Linked DNA regions of Homo sapiens: region 1 is linked to region 2. A link means that fine-mapping ties the variant in region 2 to the expression of a gene that starts in the linked region. Tissue or cell type: esophagus muscle. Region 2 holds a variant in brackets; the other region holds the start of a gene. All regions are shown on one strand. Distances are from middle to middle. Region 1 holds the start of IMMP2L (inner mitochondrial membrane peptidase subunit 2). Region 2 overlaps IMMP2L (inner mitochondrial membrane peptidase subunit 2).

Evidence for each region. PIP is the estimated chance that this variant, and not a neighbour inherited with it, causes the effect.
Region 1: it holds the start of IMMP2L, and the variant in region 2 is fine-mapped to the expression of IMMP2L in esophagus muscle (GTEx, PIP 0.98).

The regions. Positions count from the first base shown.
Region 1 is chr7:111,556,704-111,567,147 of GRCh38, reverse strand. IMMP2L (inner mitochondrial membrane peptidase subunit 2) reads left to right here and starts at 4,656. Exons shown (of 6, transcript NM_032549.4): 1 at 4,656-5,297. RefSeq lists a silencer at 4,495-5,124.
Region 2 is chr7:111,532,564-111,543,007 of GRCh38, reverse strand. All of the region lies in intron 1 of IMMP2L (inner mitochondrial membrane peptidase subunit 2), which reads left to right. Among named protein-coding and RNA genes, the nearest start is that of IMMP2L, 25 kb to the left of the region's middle. The variant T/C (reference allele first, on the strand shown) is at 3,903.

The sequences.
Region 1 (10,444 bases), 24 kb before region 2:
CAGGAAAGATACATCAGAAAATTTGAATTATTTTCTTTTAATGGACAATTTTAGAATAAGGGCTTAATGCTAGCTACTTGCAATAGTGTCCAGTGGATTTTTTTTTTCCTTTTATTGACCTCCCCTTTTTGGAACATCATTAAGAACTCATGAATTTTTATATATTCAGTATGTTTCTAACAACTGCATCCATTACTTTTTTTGATGCTTAAATTGTCCATCTTTGGCCAAAGGAGCTATTTGATATTGGTTTCTGTGTCCCTTTGACACATTTTGTTGTTAATGGATTCCCGGCTTTGTGGGACAAGTTATCCTATGCTCATCTTGTGTATAACCTGACCCAGATCTGAAGTCAGACATTTGGTTGGTCAGCTCTAGTTTCTTTTAGTTGGAAATTGTATTAAAAAACCCCAAACTGGATGATTTACATTATTTTTATTTGTAATAAAAATGAAAGGTTATATATTTAAAATTTTATTCCAAGGTAGTAAGTTTAGAATCAAGTATTTAGTTCATAAATAAAACTGTAATTGCTTGTTTTGTTTTTGTTTTAAGCTCGCTTTTAAATTATTTTTATAAAAGGGGATATACCTTGTTATAAGCATACCTAAAATTGGATTAATAACTATATACCAATCTTACATTTTTTCCAGATGGTACAATTTATATTCAAAATTTTCCAAAACGTTTGAGATGAAGGATATAAATGAAATCTCAAGTGTTTTCATATCAATTCAAATAATAATATCAATTTCATCAGAGTTGCTATAGTAAAAGCTTTTAAAAACTTTATTGAAATGTCATGGTTTGATATGAGCTGACAAATATGAGTTTTAGCTTGAAATAAGTAAAGGGCTATAATTTCAGGTGTTAACAGAAGCCTGTGTGGAAATATATGACATTCAAACAAATGAAATGCAAAAGGCCATTTGGCAGTAATTCTCCAAGTGAGGTTTGAGAACACCTAGGGGTTACTGAAACCCTTCCCGGAGCTTTGTAAGGTCCTCTCTTTTTCAACTATGAATTCGTATGACAGTTAATTTTCTTCATATCTTAGGTATAACAACATATCACAACAGCCTGAATGCAGAGGCAGAATATGAGAATCCAGTGCTCTCCTTAAGCCAGATAATAAGAGATTTATAAAATGTTAAAAATGCCACTTTTCTCTAATTTTTTGGAAAAAAAGTAGTCATTATTTATAAAAATAACTTTTACAGTAACATGTAATGGGTTTAAATTAAGCAAACACATGTCTAACATTTTTCTATCTTAAATTTTAATACAGTAAATATGGACATATATAACCCACATAAACAACAGCTCTTTAAAGTTCTCAATCATTTTTAAGAATGTAAAGAGAACTTGAGATCAAAAAGTAGTTTGAGAACTGCTACTCTATGATACCTTCTATTATTTGCTTACCAATGGTAAGTATGTATAGATAGGAATATATTTTAATATCTATATTTGTGGAATCTGTAAACTTAATTATTTTAACTTTGTTTAAATATCTCTTTGACCATTAGATTTGATGCCTAACTATAGTTTAAATTTGTACCTTAGTTAGGACTTTATGATTCATTTTCCCCTGATGGTATTAACAACAAATAGAGGTCTGCTTTAATATATAAGGAGACAAGGCAAATATATTTGAACTAGATACATAAAGCCAAATATTCAGCTTAGAATTTAATTGATAAATTAGAATAAAATAGGATGCTCTAACTGCTGCTTCTTTTTCTCATAAACTTTTTTCTCCCAAAGATCAGTTTCAGGTTCAGAGCAAAATTGAGCAGGAAGTATAGGGTTCCTATATATTCCTGTACCCCACATCTGCACAGCCTCCCTGACTATGAATATCCTGTACCAGAGCAGTATATTTGTTACAATTGATGAACTTACATTGACATCATTATCACCCAAAGTTGAGATTTTATATTAAGGCTCCCTCTTTGGGTTGTATATTTTATGGGTTTGGACAAATGTATAATGACATGCATCACCATTATCATATCATACAGAATAGTTTCACTGCCCTAAAAATCTGTGCTTCATATCCCCCTCCTCTGTGACCTCTGGCAATCACTGATCTTTTTACTGTCTCCATATGTGATGGTTAATACTGAGTGTCAGCTTGAATGTATTGAAGGATAGAAAGTATTGATCCTGGGTGTGTCTATGAGGGTGTTGCCAAGGAGATTAACATTTGAGTCAGTGGGCTGGGAAAGGCAGACCCACCTTTAATTGGGTGGGCACCATCTAATAAGCTGCCAGTGAATATAAAGCAGGCAGAAAAACATGAAAAGGAGAGACTGGCCTAGTCTCTCAGCCTACAGCTTTCTCCTGTGCTGGACGCTTACTGCCCTCAAACATCGGATTCAAAGTTCTTCAATTTTGAGACTCGGACTGGCTCTCTTGCTCCTCAAGCTTGCAGACAGCCTATTGTGGGACTTTGTCATCATGTAAGTTAATACTTAATAAACTCCTCTTTATATTTATATGTCTATCCTATTGGTTCTGTCCCTCTAGGAAACCCTGACTAATATACCATAGTTCTGCCCTTTCCAGATATTAGCTTCTTTTTAAGTACACTTGATGAATCTTAGTGATAAAATCAGGCCAGACCTAGCAACTCTTTTTGTATGTTTATTGACTTCCCAATACAATAAAGGCCATAAACACCTGTCTTTGTTGTTTATTCACCTACATTCCATCCCAGACTGTCAGTTCCTAGTGACCAGGAGCTCCATTCAATTTGGGGTCATGGTACCAAATAGTTCTTGACTGCTATTTGATGAGGGTGGTCCTGTCACCTAAGTGCTCTTGAAATTAAGTCCTTAAGCACTGGCCGAAAAGAGCTTACTTTGCAGTAATTATTTCAGTGACAAGTAAGAAAAACTGGGACATATCCCCTTCACAGGAGAGCAATTTTGCTCTCTTTAGGAAACTCTTGGAATTTTAGTTATCAGGCTATTTAAGACCCTGAGTAGATTCTTAAACCTTTAGAATAAATTTTGAACCAAGAGTGCCAGAATGTCTGTTATTTACATTAGTATTAAGTGATCTGAAAGTGCACAGAGTAGTTTGGCAGTATCTAGAGGGAGAATAGAGACAGAAATAATGAAGATACAACTGGAGGAGTAAGAAAAGGAGAAAAAAAGTATTTTATGTCTGTTCAGTATTTCTAGGTGCCACTGCTGCTAAATGCCTGGGCTTCAGCCTAGGTTGGGTTGCTCCTAGCAAAGAAAACCAGTCCCTGAGACAACGAGTATTGCCAGGGAAGACAGGCTTTAATGCAGGTGATGCTGGCAGGGAGACCAGTCTCAAACATGTCTTAGGGAGACTAAAGTTAGGGCTTTCTATAGCAGGGAATTATGGAGGGGTAAGGAAGAGGAGTTTGTGAACAGGCAGCAGATGCACCTCATTGTCCAGATGTAGTGTTCTGGAAAGTTGCATTTCCTTGACACTATCTGGGAGGTCTGACAGTTTATCTGCTGAGAAAGGAACTCAGGTAAAATGCACGCAAGTTTCTCAAGTTTCACTTCGAAGGGAAAATTTGGCCGGTTTCGGTCTTCCCTTTCTATTTATCAATTCCTCAATCATGCGGAATCTGGTAGTTGATCTTTCTGGCTGCTTCACGTGAAGGAAGGGCATCTTGGGATGATATGGAATGAAAATATCGCACCTGTAATTGCAAGTACTTACGAGTACCTGGTTGGCATCCAGCTTGTTGGAGCACCATGATTTGGGTACTTTCATCAACATTTTAAACCACATTGAATTAGGATAATTAATAACATGGATAAGAAGGTTTCTTTGTAGGTTGTAATAACCCAGTTAAGAGTTTGTACCATTCGGCCGGGCGCAGTGGCTCACGCCTGTAATCCTAGCACTTTGGGAGGCCTAGGTGAGCGGATCACGAGGTCAGGAGATGGAGACCATCTTTGCTAACACGGTGAAATCCCATCTCTACTAAAAATACAAGAAGATTAGCCGGGCATGGTGGCGGGGGCCTGTAGTCCCGGCTACTAGGGAGGCTGAGGCAGGAGAATGGCGTGAACCCGGGAGGCGGAGATTGCAGTGTCGCTCTGGCGACAGAGCGAGACTCCGTCTCAGGAAAAAAAAAAAAAGAGTTTGTACCATTTGAGGGCAAAAGCTTCAGTATGAAATTCCCGTTTCTCTCAAGTAAACCGCCTGTCCTGTGTTACTCACTTTGTTTTACCTGGAGGCAGCAAAACTGAATAGTTTTCCTGAGTGCTCATGAGTAGGAAAAAATGAAATGAAGAGTTGCCCAGAGATCGCTAGTGAGGTGCTTTGCCACTACTGCCCTGTACTTAAGTAACTGTGAGGGTTCTCTGTTTCCTGGCTTCTAAAACAAGAGGAAGAGCTGAAGACACAGTTTCATAGACTTTTCGGCTCTTTATTGTAGTCTCCCCCATTAGTACGTTGCTGAGCTTAGGGCAAGTGCTCAATAATAGCTTGCTGAATTAGTGTTGTGTTTGATCCTTTCAGATCCACGCCGCATTTTGAGCCCGACCTGGGCGGGCGGTCCAGAGACCAGTTTTCCGCCGGGGGCGGAGCTTCGGGCGGCCAGCGCGCGACGGGGCAGCGGGGCGGAGCTTGCCGCCGGCGGAGGGCGGGGTCTGCGCGGGGACTTCCCCCGGGCTGAGCTGCGCAGCGGGTGCGGAGGGCGGGCGCCCGGCGTCCGGCGGCGGGTGGGGGGCTGTGAGGCTGGCAGGGGTCGGCGGGCGCGTAGCCGCCGACCCTTGGTGGTCTCTTGGGCTGGGGACCCTTCCCTGGGAGTCGGCCCCGGCCCCGGCGGGGCGGGCGTTGCCGGGAGGCGGAGGGGTGCGCGGCCGCGAGTCCTGCGTGATCGCGAGCATGTGTGCGTGCGCGTGTTTATCTGAGGCGCGTGCGGCGGCCACCCCAGCCTAGTCCTCTTCTTGGTGCCACTGGCTAACTAGGTTGAGAAACCGGCGCCACAGGCGGCACACCTGGCCCGGAGCTGGCCCGCTCCTCCCCGCCGAGCCGGCGCCCCAACAACGCGCCCTCTCCCAGTCCTCACAAAGGGGCCTAGTCCGGCCCCCGGCTCTGGCCGTGAGGGAGCGCTGTGGGGGCGCGCTGCCTTCTGCCTGGAAGTGTTGGGCAGGTGGTGGGAGAGCGTCAGGCTTGAACAACATGATTTTAAAGCACGTGTCTGTCTGTCGTTTTTTACTTTTAGGGTTTTGGCCAAATTGGGCGAGGGCACAAAATAACCACTTACCCCTTCTCACCGAGGAAGAGCGGGAGAAAGGGTAAGTAAGGAATGGTCAGGGGTGGAAGGACCTAGGACTTTATCCTGAGAGCGAGCGAGAGAGAGAAGGGCTAGATGTCCAGAACTGCTCGTGGGGAACTTGGGCCCAGATTCTACCTTTTCATCGGGAACTGGAGGACCCACCTTCAAAGTCACAGGCTCCAGGCCCCGGACTGTTTTCAGCCTCACACAGTCTATAGAGTTTAACAGCTTGGGCATGTGGATCCCTTTTAGCCCCTTGACCCGACAGAAAACTGCACTTCCCCTTTACCTGTTTTTACCTTGGAACATTGGTCCTCTCTAGTTGTCTGTCTCCGGCCCCTATCTTATTAGCCAGCTTTGACTAATCCCTGAGACCATAGCACTAAAGAATCCAGGTCCTGTTTGATAATGAACAGTAACCCCCCTAGGGATGTTTACATTTTAAAAGGGTACTCCTGAAAAAATCCTTTAGGACCCCAAAGCATAAAGTTAGTAACAAGATTACAAGTGTTGAAGTTCTTTGGGATCTCTCAAGCTTACAGAAGAAGATGTTTTGAGGGGAGAGAGATGACCAGGCTGGGCCTTTTTCTCTGGGCTTTCACTCTTGGTACCTCCTGGCAAGCATTCCATTCACTTTTGAAAAGTTGCCAAAAAGGACACTGAAGTTCTCTGAGGCTTACTGTGATTTTCAGTGTGGTCTATTTCATTGGTTCTTCTGTGGGACTTTTCTATCACTTCTTTAATACACTGCTTCCCTCTCCCCTGTATGGTGAAATGAAACACAGCTCCTCTCACAAGGTTGGGAGCTCATTATGCATCCTATATGTCACATATAAATAACCGTTTTAAATTAGTTGAAATTCAGATTAGCTACAAGCAGGAATGTAGTAAAACTGCATTCTTGGATTCTTACACAGGAAAAGTAGAATTGCCCTCTGTGATAGGCTGCCTATTCTGATACTGGCTGCCTGTGTCCTGAACGTGCCTATTTGTTTGTGCTCAAGTGATAGGTGACCACATAATTTATGGAAAACAGGAAGTGATTGTTTATTGATAATGGGTTCCTTCATTGATTCAATAGCTAATTCTCTCTTACCATGTGCTACGCACTTTTATCAGCACTTTGATAAAAGTAGGATGGTGAGAATGATGAGATTGTATTGGAGATGGCTGTTTTGGGGTAGGCCTTTCACCAGTTTTGTGGATTTTCTCAATAGTTACATGTTAATTTACAAGACTTTCCCTGTACTACTGATCATAGTGGTTTGCAGGTCTATACAGTGTTGTGGGAGAACAGAATTATTATTCCGCCTTTCTAGTACTTTCAGTAATAAACTTACAAGGATGGCTGACCTTGATGATTTGTTTCCTATAATGAATAATGTTATAGTCATTTTCCAGTGTACGAGTATAATAATTAGATGAGGATAACTTTTGTAGTTGTTCCATAAGAAGGACCTAATATTAGGAATCATGGAGAGTGTAAAGGATGATGTACTTAGAAAAATAAATTCGAAAGTAGACCATTTTTAACTTGCATGGGTTTCTGTGCATTTAGCCTCATTTAAAAGATCTAAGCTAGAATAGTTCTTTGTCTTTTTCTGGTTATAAGAGTAATAAAAAGTCAAAAAAAAGTTATTTAGAATTAAATCTGGGAGGGTATAAAAGGCAATAAGTGAGTTTCCTATGAGTCCACTTTCAGATGACCACTTAACAATTTGATACTTGTTTCTTCAACTTTTTGTTCCATATATACACATACTAAATATGCAGCTTAAGTATATGTTAAACATGTATACATCTTAACTGCGTATTATATATGGAACATATGTGGAACATAATACATGTTTTATATATATATATTTCACTGTTATTTGATAAAATTGTAAATTTCTTTCTTTTTCTCCTTCTTCTTGGCTATTTACCACCCCTCCTCACTCCACCCCACAACTTCATGTAGAAGTAGCATGACTTTTACAGTCTTTTGGACATGAGCTTGATTTCTGGCTCTTATTTTATTAGCTGTGTCACTTTGGGCCATTAAAATTTCTCTGCTGCTTGATTTCTTATCCATCAAAACAGAACAAAGAGTATATATAAAAGAATGTGTGAAAAAACAGTGCCTGGCATAGAAGTACTTACTTTTAAATTTCCCTCCCTGTTTTTCTATGTGGTCACCCATTACTTTCCTATGATCTTCCTTTTGATTGTGGAAAGCCATGTAGTGCCTAACTTTCCTATAGCTGTTAAGCCTCCCTGGGATTTGCTTTTCACAGGGGTTCACCTGGTGTATCTGATCCTAGAATTTCTGGGACGAGGACTGACACCTGATGTGGCCTTATCAGATCATTCCACAGCCTTGGATAAAGAGTGTCAGCTTGAAAAATGAAGGGAAAGAATTTCTATAATGTGTTTAAAAAGCCCTGACACTATTCTTAAAGTGAGAAAGACATATTACTGTATTTAGCTGAGTACTTAAACTTAGGATTTCCATTTTGGAAATGTCTTTGGTTTATAAGGATTACAATAAAAATGCTGATGCTTCATGTCCAAACTGTCATGATTTTGCCAAGTTGTGGATTTAATATACAGCTTAGCTGTGTATTTAGTATATCTGATACTGCTCTGGAAACTGAGAAAGACAAGTTCACAGACATCTGATTTCACACCAGACATCTGGTTTCACTTTACTGAGGAGTATGTTTTGTCAGTAGATTATAGGCATATTAACTGTACTGCTATAGTTTGTGGCATTTCTCTCATAAGCTGTGGTCTGTAGGGTTTAGTATGATGTTTTAGTCAAATGACAGCCCACCGAAAATGAGCACCTGGTCAGATAAGCACATTTCCCATAGGTTTCTTCTAGTGTCATTGTTCTTACAAGTTAACAAGGCAAAATCATTCTATCTTTGGTGGCTTTTGTATTTTTTGTGGAAGCAAGAAAATATTCTTAAAGAAAAGCCTTACTTAAGAACCCATTGTATTCCACAAGTTCATTTTCAAGTCTGTTGTTTGTAAAGTTAACAATGTACTTATAGGAATAAATAGCATTTAGATTTCCAGATCAGAACCCCAGGAAATCTAGTACTTACTTTCCTAAAGGTACTAAGGAAAGCTTTTTAAACTCATTGTGTGCTTATTATATATTAGTGGTACTGTAGACTCTAATCAACATATATAATAGTGTTTTGGAGGTAAGTGTCTCCTGAGTGCCAACCTAGAATGGCTGGACCACGTCTCCCTCCATTTTGAGGTAGTGAGGGGTATAGAAAAAGCTCTGGAGGTTGTCATTCTTAGGTTTTCAGGCAGGGCCTGTTATTGCTTAACTGTTGACCTTGGACACAAATTCCTCATCTATAAATGGGATAATTACTTATGATTACTGTGAAATTCAGTGAGTGAGTGTAATGTGGCACAGAATCTGCCGTAAAATAAATTCTCAGTAAATAGTTGTTTCATTTTTCCTCAAAGTCCTAGACACAAGAACAAAGATACCCTTCTATCCCTTGCCCTTGCATCCAGATTAAGTCACTGGCCTGGACCTGTGGCTCCATTGGAGGGGAACTACCCATGGTATTGGGGATTTGGTAGTGAGGACTCAGAAGGGGTCATGCAGAATAATGACAAAGGAGAGGGGTTGTGAACTGAGAGAAAGGTGGCAGTCTTTTGCTCAGTCCATGAATTTAGATCAATGAATTACTTGTTTCCTAGAAAGAACCATCTTTTTCTCTGGCTTCTCTGTTGATCTTTGTCAACTGTTCCGCTGGAAACTCTTACCTTCTTAATGTCTACTTAGTCCAATAATAAGTTTTTTTCTTTGTCATCTTCATACTACCTGAATAACCATATTTTTCTATTTTTTTTAATGGTTAGGACTTAGTAATGGATATCTGTACTACAGTAACAGATGTCTGTACTAAAGATGTCTGTACGTTCTTAAGATCTGGTGTTTTTTTTTCTATACTCAAAGTCCAGTTGATTTTCTTGTTCTTTCATTGACTCGTACCTTATTCATTAACCTCGCCCCTCCTTTTTTTAGTATATCTATCTGCATTGAGCTAGTAATGTACATGGAACTAGTGACTGTGTGAATTGAACTAGTTAGGAGGATATAAAGATGAAAAGTCATCTTTGACCAAGGATCTTATAGTCTGTAGGACTACAGATATCTTGACCAATAGTTCAAATACTGTATGCTATTTGCTATAACAGAGGTAGGTACAAGTACAAATGAAATCTAGCAAGAGCTCTTGATCTCTGCCTGCAATACCAGGTAAGGGTTTTAGTAGTGGTTGTGTTTGAGCTGAGACTTGAAAACTGAGTAGGAGTGGGCATGTTGACAAGCAATAGAAAGCATTTCTAGGTAAAGCTAACAGCATGAGTAGTTGTGTGGCATTACGAGAACATAGTGTATACTGGGAACTATATGTAGGTCAGTTATATTAGAGTGTGAAGGACAAGGTCAGGAGTGAAAGGAGATGAAACTGGTTAGCCAGTTCAGGGTACACTTCCTAGATGAAACTGGATAGCCAGTTCAGGGTACACTTCTTATACCATGTGTAGTAGTGAGCCACTGAAGAATTGTGAGTGTCATGGAAGATCACTGAAAGCAGTGTGCTGGGTAGATTGAGGGTAGAGTGGGGTTGGGTGTGGGGTCATGGCAAGACTGGAAGCTTTCAAGGACAGTACATCAGTAGGGATAAGAGAGGTTGAAAGCTTAGATAAAGGTGGAAGTAGTGGGAATAGAGAAGTGAGAATGTTTAGGAAAAGTAAGATGAGGGAGAATTTGCTGGTCTTTGTGACTGTTTGAATGTAAAAGATATGGGAGAGGGAGAATGTTAGAATGCTTCCTAGGTTTCTGGGTTGTGAGTGGGAAAAGAGAAGAGGAAGAAGGTATGAGGGAGAAGAGAATGAGTTCAACTTTGGACCTGTGTTTAACATGCTCGCAGGGCATATCATTGGCAAGTGTGAGATGTCTAGAAGGCAGTTGGATATAGGATCCTGGAACATCACAAGAGATTGCAAAGGCTGGAGAAACAGATTTGTGTGTTCTTACCATATGGAGAGTAACTGAAGTATCCATAGATACGGATAAAAGTACATAGAGGAATTGTATAGAAAGAGAAGAGAAAAGGGCTAAAAATTAGTCTTAGAGAATGTAAAAAT
Region 2 (10,444 bases):
GAGTGTTAGAAGATCCAGGTAATAAATGTAGAAGATAAATTGCAAAAGGGCAGAATTTTTTAGAATGCACATATATTTTATGTTTCTTTTGTTTCAACAGTGAAATTTCAAATTCTAAGAGGCAATTGAGAGTGCTGAAATGACAGCAAGATAATAAGGACCTTCAGTAATTGTGAAGTTTAAAGACAACCCTGATAATATTTTTTATTAATTGATGTTCCATATAGACTTTGTACTTTTCTTCCTTTTCTACCCCTTCTCCATTTGAATGAGACTTGAACATTTACCTTTTACATAGTGGATTGAATTAATTGTGTATTCAGAACACTTTTCCAAATAAGTAGTATCTGAATGCTGCAGTAGCAGTTATGAAATCAATAACTCATCGTGCCCTGTGTTTTATTGGGAGTGTTGAATATTTATTGGGAGTTATGAATAACTGGAGGCAGTGTAGCATAGTGCTTAAATACCTAGTTTACAGGGTCAAATAATCTGGATTCAGCTCTGCTACTTACTGTTTCTTTGACCTTGGGAAGATTCCTTAAGCACTCTGAGCATCGGTTTATATCTTTTAAAATGGGGATAAAAATAAGGTTAATGTAGAGATTAAATGAGGTAATTAAAATAACAATTTTCAGTATTACTGTGTTTAACATAGTGATATAAAATTTTAATCAACACAAAGTGTATATTCTCTACTAGACTGAGGTTTTTATTTTATTAGTTTCACAATAAAAATATTTAGCTTTTTTCTTTTCCCAATTAATGCTTCATTCAGAGTTTGTATATTTTTTGTCATAATTTATGGAGGAGTAATATTGACTGATTTTTGTGAATGGCTAATCACTCTATTAAAAATGAAACAAAACCTTACTATACCATTAGCCAAATATTTTTATATTTTATGTTTGATAATCTAATATTTGTACTGAGGTTAATATCCAAAATATACGAAAATGTTGATATGATTTTGGCTGAGGAAAACTAACCTTTTAAGTATTTCTTGGAGGATTCTGTTACCTACGTCTCACTTTTATTTTTAAAACTCACCTTTCATCAGGGATTTTATTATGGCTGGTTTTGCTTAACATGTATGAAGAGGTGAAATTTTCACTTTTCTTTTTAATTACTTGGATAACAGTTGGTTAGGGACAGGTCTTTTTAGGTGATATGCCTCGTCTTTTTTGCAGAAGAAAGCTACATTAGGTTCTGAGAAACTTTATTTTTCAAAACTGGTAGATATTAATTTAAATTGCATCAAATCTCTATATGGCTCATATATTTTTATCTAGCTCATATATTCCTTAAAACCTATCAAAATTGTTACTGAATTTTCTTTCTAAGCCATTTATTGTCACAGTCATTGTGAAACTCCCTAATATCATTTGATGTTGATGAGACAATAAAAATAAGTTTCTTATAAAATGGGAGAGATCAGATTATTCTCAAGGCTACTAAGCTGCCGTTTAAGATGAAAACAACCTTCCTAGTGACCAGTATAAAAATAATTTAGTTTTATTTACTATTATTGGTGCTTATTTGCAAATGGAGCCATAACTTATCTTTGCTGCTGAAAGCAGGAATATGTTAGAAACTTCCCTAAATGAGTGTCTTTTCCCATATTACCCAACTACCCACTTGTGTTTATTAAATGAACGCAGGTATGACGTAAAGATCAGACAAGAAATTTAACAGTGTTATCTTTAGAAGTGTAAATAATTTCATGAGTATGTTGACCTTGTAGCAGAAGTCAGAAATGGCCTTTGAACATGGGTGTATTGATGATGATAATGGGACATATCATGGAAGATAAGTAATTTTAGTACTGTGAGGGAGGGGCCATTCTGATATTGGAAGGTAAAGGCCTGAAGTTAGAATCATAGAATCATAGATAATTGGAGCTAAGGTCATCTATTCAAATTGCTTACTCATTGGCATAGCTAAGACTTGAATCCAAATCTTATTTCTGACTTGGTACAAAGCATAGCAGGAACAGAAAACACTTAGCCCTAGAACAGAGTGGGCACTTGGTCTTTGGGAGGGACGCATGCATGGAGAGGTAGTATCAGATTAGTTGCATGGCTGTCAATACAGCCTGATCTGGCCGCTTATTTTCTCCGTTACTCTCCTGACTGGCATTTAAAGGAGTGGAATGTCGTCTGACACAACCATATGAAACTATCAACATTGTAAACGGGTGGTAATATAAACCATATCTACAATTAAACAAACAGTCAAGATACATTTATTTAGCATCTGCAAATGCTTAGCAAAATTCTAAGAATTTTAGGATGTATAGAAAAGAGTGAGACATGACCTATGTATACCCTTTAGGGGCTTACAACTTAGTTGGGGAGTTACCTATAAAACGGTAACTAACACTCTTGGGTGCCAAATGAAGGTGTGGCTAGTGAATGCCAGAGGAGTTTGGAAGTGGAAGAGGGCCTTGTGGGTTACAGTGCTAATATAGGGTTTCCCAGAGATGAAAATCAAGTTTGGTTGCTTCTCACCTCGTTAGAGCTTTTGAATAATTTTATGTGTTCAGCTGTAAAGGTTTTGGATTCACTTAACTTGTTACAGAGCCTGGACTTGATTGCAAGTGTTTCCCTGACTTCCAGTGAAGTGCCGTTCTGCAATTGCACAATGTTGTGCACAGGTTGGCAGGAGGTTTCTGTTGGAAGAAGCCCATTTTTGCTTATTAGTCTTCATTGTGTTCACCAGCAGATCAAATTCACCCCACTGGTCTTCTGGATGTTTTATGATGGAGCACCCCCAGTTTCAGTTACCCGGAGCCCCTGTTGTTTCTAGATTGCGAAAATAGCTAAAATTATTATTTAAATATGAGTTTGGTGGATCTTTTCCTTTAAGGTAATCTTTCTACTAAGAAACTATTAAAATGAGGTGGGTATTTGTTTACAGTATATGAAACATAGCAGCAGCTGGCATTTACAGTGGGCTTCTGTTGTTCAATTAGATTATTTTGGTGTTCTGTTATGAATCATTAACTTGAAGATTGGTACATAAATAAAGCCATTAAAAATAATAAGTAAATTTAGAAATAGCTGCATCAGAGAATAAATATACTTATCAAAAACCCATTTTGTTTTCCCTCTACCTGGATATTTTTGTATTCAAATGGTATTTCTCATTTTAGCACAAAGAAAGGCCTATAAAGCTGACAGTTGAATTTAGTCTAACCAAGAAATATGAAATACATTAGAGCTTGAATTATATAGTGCAAACCTCAATCCACTGCTGATTCTTTAAGGCAGTGTTTTTTAACCTTTTTCTTTTTTTCTTTTATTCTTATTTTAATGTAGTGAACCCTTCTTCAAAGAAAATCTTGGTTGGAATTCCATTATTGAAAAAAAAAAAACCAGATAAAAAGCAGAGTGGCTCTGATTGAGGCAGTTCAGAACTCTGTTCACTTAGCACCTGCTCCCCCTGGCCCTTGAGACTCCAGGGAATCATTAGGAGACCATGAAGCACAGACTGAAAAATAATTGCTTTGAAAGAAAATCTAACTAAACACTTCCTAAAAATCAGCTGTTAATTGGGAAAAAAATTCTTAATGCCTTATAGTTGGGTGGATTATGAAAGTTACTTGATCCTTCTTATCCATCTTTACTGCTTTTGGACAAGAGTGTTGTGTTATGATTTATTGAAGAAAAATACAGAAAAGTCAACTTCCTGAAGTTCAATATACAGATATATATGTAGTAATCGACGTATGTTCTCTTTCTTTCTTTCTTTCTTTCTTTCTTTCTTTCTTTCTTTCTTTCTTTCTTTCTTTCTTTCTTTCTTTCTTTCTCCCTCCTTCCTTCCTTCCTTCCTTCCTTCCTTCCTTCCTTCCTTCCTTCCTTCCTTCCTTCCTTTTCTTTTCTTTTTGTGAGATGGAGTCT[T/C]GTTCTGTCGCCAAGGCTGGAGTGCAGTGGCATGATCTGCTCACTGCAACCTCCGTCTCTCAGGTTCAAGCAATTCTCCTGCTTTAGCCTCCCGAGTAGCTGGGACTACAGGCATGCGCCACCACACCTGGCTAATTTTTGTTTTTTTAGTAGAGACGGGGTTTCACCATGTTGGCCAGGCTGGTCTTGAACATCCTGACCTTGTGATCTGCCCACCTCAGCCTCCCAAAATTCTGGGATTACAGCCGTGAGCCACTGTGCCCAGCCTTTTTTTTTTTTTTTTTTTTTTAAATGAGCCAGGGTCTCATTGCTCTGTCACCCAGGCTGGAGTGCAGTGGTGTGATCAGAGCTCACTGCAGTCTCGATCTCCTTGGCTCAAGTGATCCTCCCACCTCAGCCTCCTGAGTAGCTGGGAGCACAGGCATGTGCCACCATGACTGGCTATGTTAATTTTTTTTTTTTTTTTTTTTTTAGAGACAGGGTCTTCCTATGCTGCTCAGGTTGGTTTCAAACTCCTGAGCTCAAGTGATCCTCCTGCCTTGGCCTCCAAAGTGCTGGGATTACAGGCATGAACCACTGTGTCCAGCCCACATATTTCTTTCTGTGTATATTTATACTTACAGCATAAGTATAATTTCTTTTAAAAACCACTTTCTTCATAAATATCTTCAGCTGTGAAGTAAAACTATCAGGTAAGAGATGGAGACAGTCATTTGTGTGTACATACACCACACACACAAACTAACACACACACACATAAAATTTATGGCATGTGGTTGTGCAGTGCTGTTCAATCAAGGCCTCCAGAACTTATATCACATTCTGAGTATGATGTAGTTTATATGGACAGCTAAGTGGTTAATTAATTTCTTCAATGAAACTGTATTGAACACTGAGCACTTAAGTGCAAAGCACTTAAGTATAGTAGTGAACAAGTGTTTCTGCTCGCGCAGAACTCACAACTGATTAGGGGTAAGGATGAGAAAATCAGGTGTGATAAATGCTGTGCTAGGGGGAGCATAGAGTTTTATGGGAACACATAGGAAGGAAATCTAAGTCAGATTTGGAGAGTCGGAGTGGACTTCCTGATAGTGACATCTAAGCTAACCTGAAGGATGGGTAAAGCTGGCCAAAACAAAGAAAGGTGGGAAGAGTGATGTAGACAGAAGGGAGAGATGTATAAGGGCCCAGAGACAAGTAAAAGTGTGGCATATTCTAGAAATTGTATGGAGGTGGGTTTGGTTGAAGCATGATGTGCTGTGAAAGAGAGGAACTGGCCCAGCACGGTGGCTGGTACCTGTAATCCCAGCACTTTGGGAAGGTGGGTAGATCACTTGAGCTCAGGAGTTTGAGATTAGCCTGGGAAACATGATGAAACTCCATCTCTACAAAAAATACAAAAATTAGCCAGGTGTGGTGGCACATACCTGTGGTTCCCGCTACTTGGGAGGCTGAAGTGGGAGGATTGCTTGTGCCTGGGAGGCAGAGGTTGCAGTGAGCTGAGGTCGCACCACGGCACTCCAGCCTGGGTGACAGAGTGAGACCCTGTCTCAAAAAAAAAAAAAAAAAAAAAAAAAAGTGGAAGTGATGAGACTAGGAATCTAATCATAATTAGCCTTATATGCTAAATCTAAGCAGCTTGATATTATCCTATAGAAAATGAGGAGTTATTGAACGATTTAAAGTAAGAGAAAGTTAGGATGATTTCTATTTTTTTCATGAATGCTCACTTTGGCTCACTACCATGTTGACCTTTGGGCAGCTGTTTGGATGATAGAGTCATTCTCTGAAAGTAGAAGAACCAGAGAGTATAAAATGCTGTGTAGTTTGTCTTTCCATAACATCCCCAATTGCCTCTATCCTTTATAAAATCCATCTTTCTTCATTTTATTTTTATGGCCCTTTTAGCCTTATCTCAAGGCTGGAATAATTCCAAAGAACAATGCTTAATGTTCAATATCTATATAGATACTATACAGAAACGTCTTTACTCTTTCGGTATAGAAACTGATATGATGCCTGGCACTTAGCAGATATTCAGTAAATGTTTATTGATGTGAAAGGGGTAAATACCAAAAGAAGAGATGTTGATTCAATTTTTTTTTTTGGTAAGATTTCTCTGCTTTTCCTGACATGTCCTTTAGATGCAGACAATTTCAATGTCAGCTGTTTCTTAACAAACTTACAAGGGTACAACCATTGTATAATAGTACTACTAATGATAATTAATAAAACATTGTACATTTTAAATAGTCTTCAAAGTCACAAGCTTTTTGCTTTACTAGTGGATCTCAAATTCAATTAACAGTTGGATATGCTGATATAATATTCAAAGAATAGTGAAAAGCTTTAACTCATCTCAATGATTATTCTTTGGAAATTAGTGTAGAAGGATAATTTATAAATTGAAAAAAATTTTTTATATGTGCAAGGGAACTTCTTTTCTAACAAATTTCTGAGAATGATCATAAAGGGGACTTATTTTAAAACAATATTTTAGGCGGAGCACAGTAGCTCACACCTGTAATCCCAGCACTTCCGGAGGCTGAGGCTGGTGGACCACTTGAATTCAGGAGTTTGTGACCAGCCTGGGCAACATGGTGAAACTCCATCTCTACAAAAAATATAAAAAATTAGCCAGGCCTGGTGGTGTGCATCTGTGGTCCTAGCTATTGGGAGGCAGAAGTGGGAGGATCACTTGAGCCTGGGAATTGAGGCTGCAGTGAGCCGTGATCATGCCACTGCACTCCAGCGTGGGCAACAGAGGGAGACCTTGTTTCAAAAAAACCCCAAAAAACAACAAAAAACAACCCACCACCAATATTTCATATTGTATTTAACTTAGTAGTTTGTAACATTATTTTCATGGTATTACTTAAATAAAATGAAATTACCTGATTTACCTTTTGAAGCTAAAACCCATATTTTAAAGTATTGCTCAGATTCAGAAAATTAGCACATTCAAAGCTGTTTTTCCAGTAGTTTAAACTCATTACTGACTTTATTTAATAAGTAATCAAATTTTTTTCATATTTAGCCAGTGGGATCACCAGGCAAGCTCCCGTCTCCTTTTGATGTACTTCCATCTTTTTTCTAAGCACTTCTTAGTGGCCAAAGAAAATGTTTCAGGCTCATCTTAAACCTTCCCCACCACAGCCCCAGAATCAACCTTTACTCTGAAGATTGCTGATTCTTTGGAGTAGGGAATGGTATTAGACCCTAAGAATTGAGTACTACATATACTCATTGCTACTTCTATATGGTTTTGCTTCCAGGGCCCCACAGCATTCTTCCCTGATTCCCACTGTGTATTTTTATCTCCCTTTTCCCACAGTCACCACTGTTCTCCCAACTCATTTGCTGAGTCCTACAATGTATCTTAAGTAGTTTCACAATTGTTTCTCTCACTGTTTGCATTCCCCACCCCCCAACTTCCCAGCCCAAATACCGCCTATAGTATTTGACTCTATACCCTTGGGTTGGGTATAATTAAATAACTGTGTCCTAAAGTTAATTGGATTAGTCCCTTTTCCTGCCCCACCATAGTTGATGACTGTTTAATTCACTCCCTTGTTTAGATTTTAAGTGTCCGATGGGGCAAAGACCATTTCTTTAGATATATCTCATATAGAATCAAAATGTGTGGTATAAATCAAGAATATTAATGAGATTGTTTTGCCCTGCATTTAATATCTTTCGTTAGACACTCTCACTAAAACAAAGTGAAGTGTGCAGTTTTTTTCTTTCCTCTTCCTCTTTTTCCCCCTCTTTCTTTCCTTCCCTCCCTTCCTTCATTTCTCCTTTTTGCTTCCTTTTTTTGTTTTTTGTTTCTTTTTGATATGGAACATTTCTCTACCTTACTGCATTTTACTCAGAATAGTAGAGGCATTTCTCCTATTAATGACATACATGCATTCCTGAAAAATCTTTAATTCTGCAAAATTAAACCATAAAATTTTAGGGCTTATAAAGAAAATAGGGCTAGGAACAGATCATTTGAAACCAGTGACATTTTGTAAACAGAGCTGAGAAAATAGAAGTTGTCATAAAAACGAGCACTATTAACTCCCTCCTTGCATTTGCACCCAGCATCACATCAGTCTTAGCTTGAAACCCTGGTTTTCTTCCTTTGTTGTAGGTCCTTAAAGTCATCTACTTCTAATACAGACCAATTTCATCAAAGTTGAAAATCTGCTCTAGGATATTGATCTGTTGATTTTATTCTATTTTAAACACAGGGGAAAATATCTTTGCATTTCTTCGTTGGTATGCTCAGCCTCCTTTAACAGTGGAAAGTCTTGAAGCCACCAAATGAGACTTTCACTTTAATTGGGAGAAGACTTGCTCTTGGTTGAATCAAAACCTTCATGTACTGGGGAAAATTGTGTATGAACCAGCATAGCTTTCACATAAGACTGACGTCATTTTCCTATATATGAGCTAATTTACATTAAGAAATAGCTATTGTAGCAGAAAAGACTGTAATATTAATTTTGTTTTAGTATATAAAGATACTAAATACCTATTACTGAAGATTTAAGTAATATGGAAAAATATAAAGCATAAAGTGAAATTCCTTTCATTGCAAATAAATACTGTCATCATTTTGGTTCATATTCTTTATTATTTGACCTCTTTCTATGATGATGATGATAAGGATGACGATGAGGATGATGCTGTGTGTGTATAAAATTTCACATAAATGGGTTCATATTAAAAATGCAATTTTCCAACTTTTTTGGAGGAGAATCTCAAGCAATATAACGATATATTGTTCTTTTTAATGATTGCAGATTACTCTACTGTATGCATGTCATAATTTATTTACATATTTGTGAACATTTGGTTGTTTTCATTTTTTCACTGCAATAAAAATGGTATGTTGAATATCGTTGATCATATCTTTGCATCCATAAAATAAATTCCTGGAGTGGTGTTTCTGCATCAGAAGGTATATTCATGTAACATTTTGGTACATATTACCATATTAAATTTGTCAGTTTGATAGACTAAAGTAGTACTTTGTTTTTATTTATATTGATTTTATTATTAGTGTGTTTGTACATCTTTTTATGTCTTTATATACTGTCCATATTTTGTTTCAGTGAAATACCTTTCTCTCAAAATTATTGTCTTTTTTCTTATACTTTATAAGAATTGTGTAATTTTAGAGATACTGATATTATAATTTTTTATGTCCTGCTGATTGTCTTTTAACATTATTTATGGTATGTTTTGATTTTTATGTAGTGAAATCTATCAGTATTTATCTTTCATGTTTTCTGGATTTTGTAAAATGTTCAGAAAGACCTCTTTCTACCCTTAAAAGACTGTTGCCTTTATTTTCTCTTGTTATTTTTATATTTCTATTTATTACATATAATGTTTGGCTTATCTGGAATTTATTTTCTTATAATGAATTTAATAAATATCTAGCTTTGATTTTATTCTCCTTCCAAATTGTAGCTAATTGTTTCAACATAACTTGTTAATTCAACTTCTCTTCCCAATATGAATGTCGACTTTATCAAATACCAAGTTTCTTTGCGCCCTTGGGTCTTTTTGTGCATTTTGTATTGTATTAGTCATTTCTGCAAAACAAATAACCACCCAAATCAGTGGCTTAACACATTTATTATCTCACACAGTTTCCATGGATCATCAGAAATTTAGGAGCGGGTCAGCTTTGTAGTTCTGATTCAGTGTTTCTCTTAAGGTTGAAGTTAAGATTTCAACTCTAGCCACAGTTGATGAAATTTCACAGGTATCTTAAAACAGTGTCTTCCAATTTATAGGCAAGTATGCAGAAATCAAAACAAGGCATATAAGAGTGGAGAATAATCTAAATGAGATCGCAGTTCCATTTGCTGTAATACCACAGGCTCGTTATAATACCTGGACTTTTTGTGCAACAGACACTTGAGTCTGGGTAATGCTGTGCTCCATCTGCTTTTATCTCCAGGCCACTCAGGATGAGCTGCTTTATACTCTGGCCTCTTGGCTGTTCTATTTATTTATATATTTATTTTTACTTTTTCTTTTTTAACATATGCTGCTAACTTGGCCTTTGTTGCCATTTCAGCAAGTGTGCATGCATGTTTGTGGGTACACTTGCACTTATAAGCTAAAAGGACCATAAGCACTCATTCCAAGGGAGTTTATTTCTGTTGCTTTCACCTTAAATTGCATAAATCTTTTCCTCTGGCTTGCATCTTCAGTACTGACTCTGCACTGTTGCTGTTTGAACTCCCCATGGACTTGCAGCTGCCATACATGGGCTGTGGGCACCTTTCCAAATCTTCAAGCCATAGTCTGAATAGATTTTATTTTTGACAGACTAATTGGAGCCTTAATGTGCTTTCCTGATGGGGGAGCCTGTGTTTCTAATTTTTTTGTATTTATCATTTTGTAAAGAGTAGTAATAGTCCCTGGGCTAGCTATAAGTTTGCTGGTTAAATTGTATTTTTCAGTCCTACTTTTTTGTGACTTTCTCTTTCCATTTTTGTCCCTTGGGGTCTAGTGGCCTGATTCTTTTGAGAAGC